Linked DNA regions of Homo sapiens: region 2 is reported to be linked to region 1. The links are microRNA targets in miRTarBase. Many come from high-throughput screens and were not tested one by one. Region 1 holds a microRNA gene; the other region holds the end of a gene's coding sequence.

Region 1 (3,404 bases):
GAGTTTCAGTCTTGTCGCCCAGGCTGGAGTGCAATGGCGTGATCTTGGCTCACTGCAACCTCCGCCTCCCAGGTTCAAGCGATTCTCCTGCCTCAACCTCCCGAGTAGCTAGGATTACAGGCGCCAGCCACCACATCCAGCAAATTTTTGTATTTTTAGTAGCGACGGGGTTTCACTATGTTGACCAGGCTGGTCTCGAACTCCTGACCGCAGGTGATCCACCTGCTTTGGCCTCCCAAAGCGCTGGGATTACAGGTGTGAGCCACCGTGCCTGGCCACAAGGTGGTCTTTTAACAACAGAGCACACAGCTGGACAAAGCCCAACGCTCTCTTCTTTGGGGCCGAGGTGGGTCATTAATATTGAACATTTACAATGTACTTGCTCCAGGTGATTCAGTTTAATTTCTGCCGTCTCTTGTAACAGGGCTCCCACGTGCACGGGTTGGGGCCGTGTGTCTGCCTCTGCTTTCTGAGGCCCCACAGCGTATTGATTCTGCGAAACGTACGTTTCTTTGAAAACAGCGTCTCTTGACATGACAGGAGATCACACATCGCTTGTTTTCTGTCCCTTTCATTGCCCTCTGAACATGATAAAATCATGACCTAGTGTCACCGAGGGACCTCAGCATCTCTTGGAAAGAAGGACTTGCCTTCTTTTTTATCTTTGTCAAGCCAGTGAGGCCAAGTAGAAAATTTTTAGCAGCTTTGGAGCCAGACAGATCGGAGTGCGAGTTCTGCCCGTTATTGACTGGACCGTGTGACCCTGGGAGAGCCGCCTAGTGTCTATGAGACGGAGGCTGTTGGGCAAGAAAATGGGGATGGTCCCAGCATTATGGGGCGGTTGTGAGAATTCAGTGCAATGATGCAGTGCTCCCAGAACAGCTGGTCTAGGGCTTGGCTCATGGGACTGTCCCTTCGCAGAGGCAGCGTGGACATTCCGCTGGTATCCACTGGTGTGGCTGTGCCTGTTTGGTCACCGTGTCTGTTCTGATTGGTCGGTGCTCCTGCATGTCAAGAGTTCAATGTTATGAAAATCATCCCTGCCTAGAGATGAATTCCCCCTTCCCCTGAGGTCTAGACTGGTATAGCTGCTTTTGGAGCCTCACCTGCTGAGAGCTCACAGCTGTCCTTCTCTAGAGAATCACCCTCAGATGGGAGCCACATTGCCTGGGATGGGATGCCATGCCCAGTAATGGCCCAGTGACTAACTGATACAGCAACGTGAATGGCTGGTCCCTGCCCCACGGTGGGGACGATCCTGTGGCGTGCTCTCTGCTGCTCGTGGGATAGGTCAAGGCGGGACTTTAAGGGACCACATTCTCACTCTGCTCTGTCCCCTTCTGCATCCTGTAGTCCTCACCTCCCTTCTCCTGAAAGCCCCTTTCAAAACAAAAACAAAAACCACATCCACCCAAGTCCCTGTCTCCAGCTCTGCCTCCAGGAAAGCCGGCGGAAGGCCGCCAGTCTCAGCTGTGACAGATACAGATATTTCTGCATTTCCAGGACTGAGGTCAATCCCTGGGGACCCAGTGAGGCGGTATCTGAAGGGCCATGGAGCTGGCTTGATGGGGTCTACAGGTAGGCAGGGACCTGGTGGGGATGTGACTCAAGGATTTTTATCAAATATCTTTATCCCCTGACAGATGCAAAAAAAAAAAAATGAGATCAGACTCCAGGGTTTCCTCCATGCCACACTGTGGCCCCATTGTTTGTTGTGCTATCAGCAGAAGTTGATTTTGCAAGGAATGTACACGTGTATGTGATGTTTGAATGCACCTATCTGTGTGTGCGTGCATTTGTGTGTGTGTGTGTGCATTCGCTTGTGTGTGTGTGTGTGTGTGTGTGTGTGTGTGTGTGTGTGTGTGTGTGCTGAGGATGTGAGCCCCACTTCCGGCCCAGTGCCCCTGCCCAGGCTGGCTCTGCCCTCCTGCTGCTCTGGGCCCCTCAGGCAGTGACTACCTGGTACATAGGGAAGGCATCAGCATCCCTTATTCATGGGGACTGTATACTGTCTCCACCATATTGGGCCTTTTGGCCTCTTGGACATGACTTGGCCTCTGCTGGCTTTAAGGGACTGCCAGAGATGCCATCTTCTCTGGGAAATGTTCTCAGCCTGGGCACAGCCCACTAACCACTGCCTGCTTGTCTGAGACTTCTCTGTCCAGGAAAACAGCCCAGCCTGACCAGAGATGGGCATAGAGCCATATTTTGGGAAAGACTGGTTGGGGGTCAACTTGGTTTCTGGAACCAGTTCTGATTTCAGTTGCAGGGGACAGTGAGCCAGTTACTGCCCACTGGCTGCATCCTAAGCCTTCCTAGAGGAGAGCTAGCCTCCTCCTAGGGTTGCCCAGGCTGGACCACTTCTGCCTGGGTGATGGGTTGGGAGAAAGACGTTAATATTTGGAGCAGTGTTATATTAGTCAGCCCTCCCATTTGCAAACATTAGAAAACCAGCTCAAATTAGTGATAAAAGAAAATCTCAGCTGAATTAAATTTAAAGTAGTTTAATTGAGCAATGAATGATTCGCGAATTGGGCAGACCCCAGAATCACAGCAGATTCATAGAGACTCCAGCGCAGCCACGTGGTGGAAGAAGATTTATGGACAAAAGAAGGGAAATGATGTACAGAAATCAGAAGTGAAGTACAGAATGGCTGGATTGTTACAAGTTGGCGTTTGCCTTATTTGAGTACAGTTTGAACACTCAGCAGCGTATGAGCGGTTGAACTACGGCCTCTGGGATTGGCCAAGACTCAGCTATTGTTACAGGCGCATACTCCTAAGTTAGGTTTTCAATCTTGTCTACCTATTAAGCTAGGTTGCAATTTGTCCACAAGGACTCAACTATAGAAGTACGAAGTCCCACTCAGGCCATATTTAGTTCACTTTAACACTAGCTTCGGCAACTGTCTCTCAGAGCCCAGGGCAGGGCAGGGATGCAACTGGGCTTCAGGAAACTTGAATTCATTGACTGTCTCTTCCCCATCTTAGATGCAGTGCTAAGGGCTTTTTAGTAATTTTCTCATTTGACTCTCAAAACAAACTGATGAGGAAACGGTCTGAGAGTAGTTAGGCAGCTTTTCAAGGTCACACAGATAGTAAATGTCATCACTGGGACTTGAACTCAGGTCTTTCTGACTCTCATGTCTGTGCAACATGTCATCTCAGCCACTGTTGACACTGTATATGTGGATTAGGGTTGGCTAAACTGCTGTAACAAATAGACCCAACTCGAATGGTGCATGTATGTACAATAGGGGTTTATTTCTTATGATATAGTTCACGGTGGTCCCAGGTGAATAAGGATGGGTAGGTCTGCATTTTTCATAATCATCTGGATTTCTGCTCAGGCTCCTAGAGTCTCTGCCACCTTCCCCATGTGGCTTCCAAGGCCACCTTGGAGA
Region 2 (3,404 bases), not on the chromosome of region 1:
TGTTAGCGTTCCTGGATCCAAGAAGGTCATCCTTGACCTGCCCCTGGTAATTGGCAGCAGATCAGGTCTAAGCAGCAGAACATCCAGCATGGCCAGCCGAACCAGCTCTGAGATGAGTTGGGTAGATCTGAACATCCCTGATACCCCAGAAGGTGAGCCAGACCTAATGTCTTTTCTTTGTTTCTGGTCTACCTGGGTTTGTAAAATTGTGATGGTCCAGCATTTCTTGGGCAGGATTCTTATGTGGCCATATTTTCTTTTCTAGCTCCTCCCTGCTATATGGATGTCATTCCTGAAGATCACCGATTGGAGAGCCCAACCACTCCTCTGCTAGATGACATGGATGGCTCTCAAGACAGCCCTATCTTTATGTATGCCCCTGAGTTCAAGTTCATGCCACCACCGACTTATACTGAGGTGAGGATTGTCATCTTTACTGTTAAATTTGTCCTAAGCTTTCTATAAGAAGTTGACTTAGACGGATTGCTAAACTGGTTTGTTCTTTTTGTTCTTACCTGAACTGAAATAGTCTGTTTCTTTCTTTAGGTGGATCCCTGCATCCTCAACAACAATGTGCAGTGAGCATGTGGAAGAAAAGAAGCAGCTTTACCTACTTGTTTCTTTTTGTCTCTCTTCCTGGACACTCACTTTTTCAGAGACTCAACAGTCTCTGCAATGGAGTGTGGGTCCACCTTAGCCTCTGACTTCCTAATGTAGGAGGTGGTCAGCAGGCAATCTCCTGGGCCTTAAAGGATGCGGACTCATCCTCAGCCAGCGCCCATGTTGTGATACAGGGGTGTTTGTTGGATGGGTTTAAAAATAACTAGAAAAACTCAGGCCCATCCATTTTCTCAGATCTCCTTGAAAATTGAGGCCTTTTCGATAGTTTCGGGTCAGGTAAAAATGGCCTCCTGGCGTAAGCTTTTCAAGGTTTTTTGGAGGCTTTTTGTAAATTGTGATAGGAACTTTGGACCTTGAACTTACGTATCATGTGGAGAAGAGCCAATTTAACAAACTAGGAAGATGAAAAGGGAAATTGTGGCCAAAACTTTGGGAAAAGGAGGTTCTTAAAATCAGTGTTTCCCCTTTGTGCACTTGTAGAAAAAAAAGAAAAACCTTCTAGAGCTGATTTGATGGACAATGGAGAGAGCTTTCCCTGTGATTATAAAAAAGGAAGCTAGCTGCTCTACGGTCATCTTTGCTTAGAGTATACTTTAACCTGGCTTTTAAAGCAGTAGTAACTGCCCCACCAAAGGTCTTAAAAGCCATTTTTGGAGCCTATTGCACTGTGTTCTCCTACTGCAAATATTTTCATATGGGAGGATGGTTTTCTCTTCATGTAAGTCCTTGGAATTGATTCTAAGGTGATGTTCTTAGCACTTTAATTCCTGTCAAATTTTTTGTTCTCCCCTTCTGCCATCTTAAATGTAAGCTGAAACTGGTCTACTGTGTCTCTAGGGTTAAGCCAAAAGACAAAAAAAATTTTACTACTTTTGAGATTGCCCCAATGTACAGAATTATATAATTCTAACGCTTAAATCATGTGAAAGGGTTGCTGCTGTCAGCCTTGCCCACTGTGACTTCAAACCCAAGGAGGAACTCTTGATCAAGATGCCCAACCCTGTGATCAGAACCTCCAAATACTGCCATGAGAAACTAGAGGGCAGGTCTTCATAAAAGCCCTTTGAACCCCCTTCCTGCCCTGTGTTAGGAGATAGGGATATTGGCCCCTCACTGCAGCTGCCAGCACTTGGTCAGTCACTCTCAGCCATAGCACTTTGTTCACTGTCCTGTGTCAGAGCACTGAGCTCCACCCTTTTCTGAGAGTTATTACAGCCAGAAAGTGTGGGCTGAAGATGGTTGGTTTCATGTTTTTGTATTATGTATCTTTTTGTATGGTAAAGACTATATTTTGTACTTAACCAGATATATTTTTACCCCAGATGGGGATATTCTTTGTAAAAAATGAAAATAAAGTTTTTTTAATGGAAAAAAAAATGTCTGTGAGATGGCTTTGGAAAAGTTTTTGGAAAGAAGGTGTGTCTAAAGGAGTTTTCCTCTACTTAACAATCCACACTAATGAAAACCTTGTGGAGAAAACACTCCCTATGGACCCTAAGGAATGTCGGCAGAGTGGGGGCTAGAAGGTGAAGAGGGAAACCGTTTGAGGCATGTTTCAGATTCACTGAACAACTATACTGGGATTTTCCGGTTGTCTAAACTAGTTTTCCAAATCCATAGGTAATCATTACTAAATTCCTTCAGTTTTGGAGTTCATGGGTTCTTGAAATACAGGGAGATGATGTTTATGAGGGCATTTGAAAGAAAAGAGTGGCGGTTCCTTTTTTTGAGACAGTCTCACTCACCCAGGCTGGAGTGTAGTATGATCTTAGCTCACTGCAGCCTTGATTTCCTGGGCTCAAGTGATCTTCCCATCTCCGCCTCCCACATAGCTGGGCTACAGGCATACACAACTACGTTCAGTTAATTGTGTGTGCGTGTGTGTGTGTGTATGTGTTTGTTTTTTCTACGCTCAGCTAATTTTTTGATTATTTGTAGAGTTCGGGTTTTGCCATGTTGTCCAGGTTGGCCTCAAACTTCTGGGCTCAAGTGATCTGCTGGCCCTGGCCTCCCAAAGAGTTGGGAATACAGGCGTGAGACACCACACTCAGCTGAAGATCCCCTTTTTACAATATGGTTTTATCATAGGGTTTCTTCCCAATGTAAACTTGATTTATATACTAACAAGGATAACTTCAGGACTTAAGAGGTTATAGAGTTATGAGTATTAAATTCTTTGGAGGCAGCTAACCATTTTTTATTTTCACAGTTCCTAACCAAGCACATAACTCAGTAAATGTTTGCTAACTATTCAACTTCACCCTCATCCCTTAGATGATTTGATGGTTCCTATTCCTTGTAGGGTAATAGTAGTAGAGTAATACCACAATCCCATGTTTAATTGGTGTGATTTTCTTTCTTTCTTTCTTTCTTTCTTTTTTTTGAGATAGAGTCTTGCTCTGTCTCCCAGGCTAGAGTGCAGTGGCCCAATCTTGGCTTAATACAATGTCCGCCTCCCAGGTTCAAGCGATTCTGCTACCTCAGACTCTTGAGTAGTTGGGATTACAGGCATGAGCCACCACACTCAGCTAATTTTTGTATTTTTAGTAGAGACGGGGTTTCACCATGTTGGCCAGGCTGGTCTCGAACTCCTGACTTCCCGTGATTCACCCGCCTCAGCCTCCTAAAGTGCTGGGATTACAGGTGTGAGCCATGGCGCCCAGCAGTGATTTTCATTCCTAAAGAACCGACAGGTGGAGAAACCCTGGGATGGCCAATTTAAATATTTGCACAGATCTGGTCCTGGTCCTTATTTGGGAATTGATTTTTCTGAGGACTTCCAC

The links. The annotated mature microRNA hsa-miR-3670 reads AGAGCUCACAGCUGUCCUUCUCUA and lies in region 1 at 1,113-1,136, shown strand. An mRNA with a match to its seed (bases 2 to 7 or 8) in the 3' UTR can be bound and repressed. Matches are read on the target gene's strand: a 7mer-m8 pairs with bases 2 to 8, a 7mer-A1 pairs with bases 2 to 7 and ends in A, and an 8mer does both.
Region 2: the mRNA of TXNIP is a reported target of hsa-miR-3670. Seed matches in the 3' UTR shown: 7mer-m8 at 1,805-1,811.

What each region holds. Positions count from the first base shown.
Region 1 is chr16:16,305,297-16,308,700 of GRCh38, forward strand. MIR3670-2 (microRNA 3670-2) reads left to right here and starts at 1,074; the gene lies at 1,074-1,138. The region is part of intron 1 of LOC105371099 (a long non-coding RNA gene); the gene reads right to left.
Region 2 is chr1:145,991,029-145,994,432 of GRCh38, reverse strand. TXNIP (thioredoxin interacting protein) reads left to right here. Exons shown (of 8, transcript NM_006472.6): 6 at 1-152; 7 at 266-417; 8 at 547-1,998. The coding sequence ends at 582. Among named protein-coding and RNA genes, the nearest start is that of TXNIP, 3.8 kb to the left of the region's middle. RefSeq lists an enhancer at 1,646-1,725.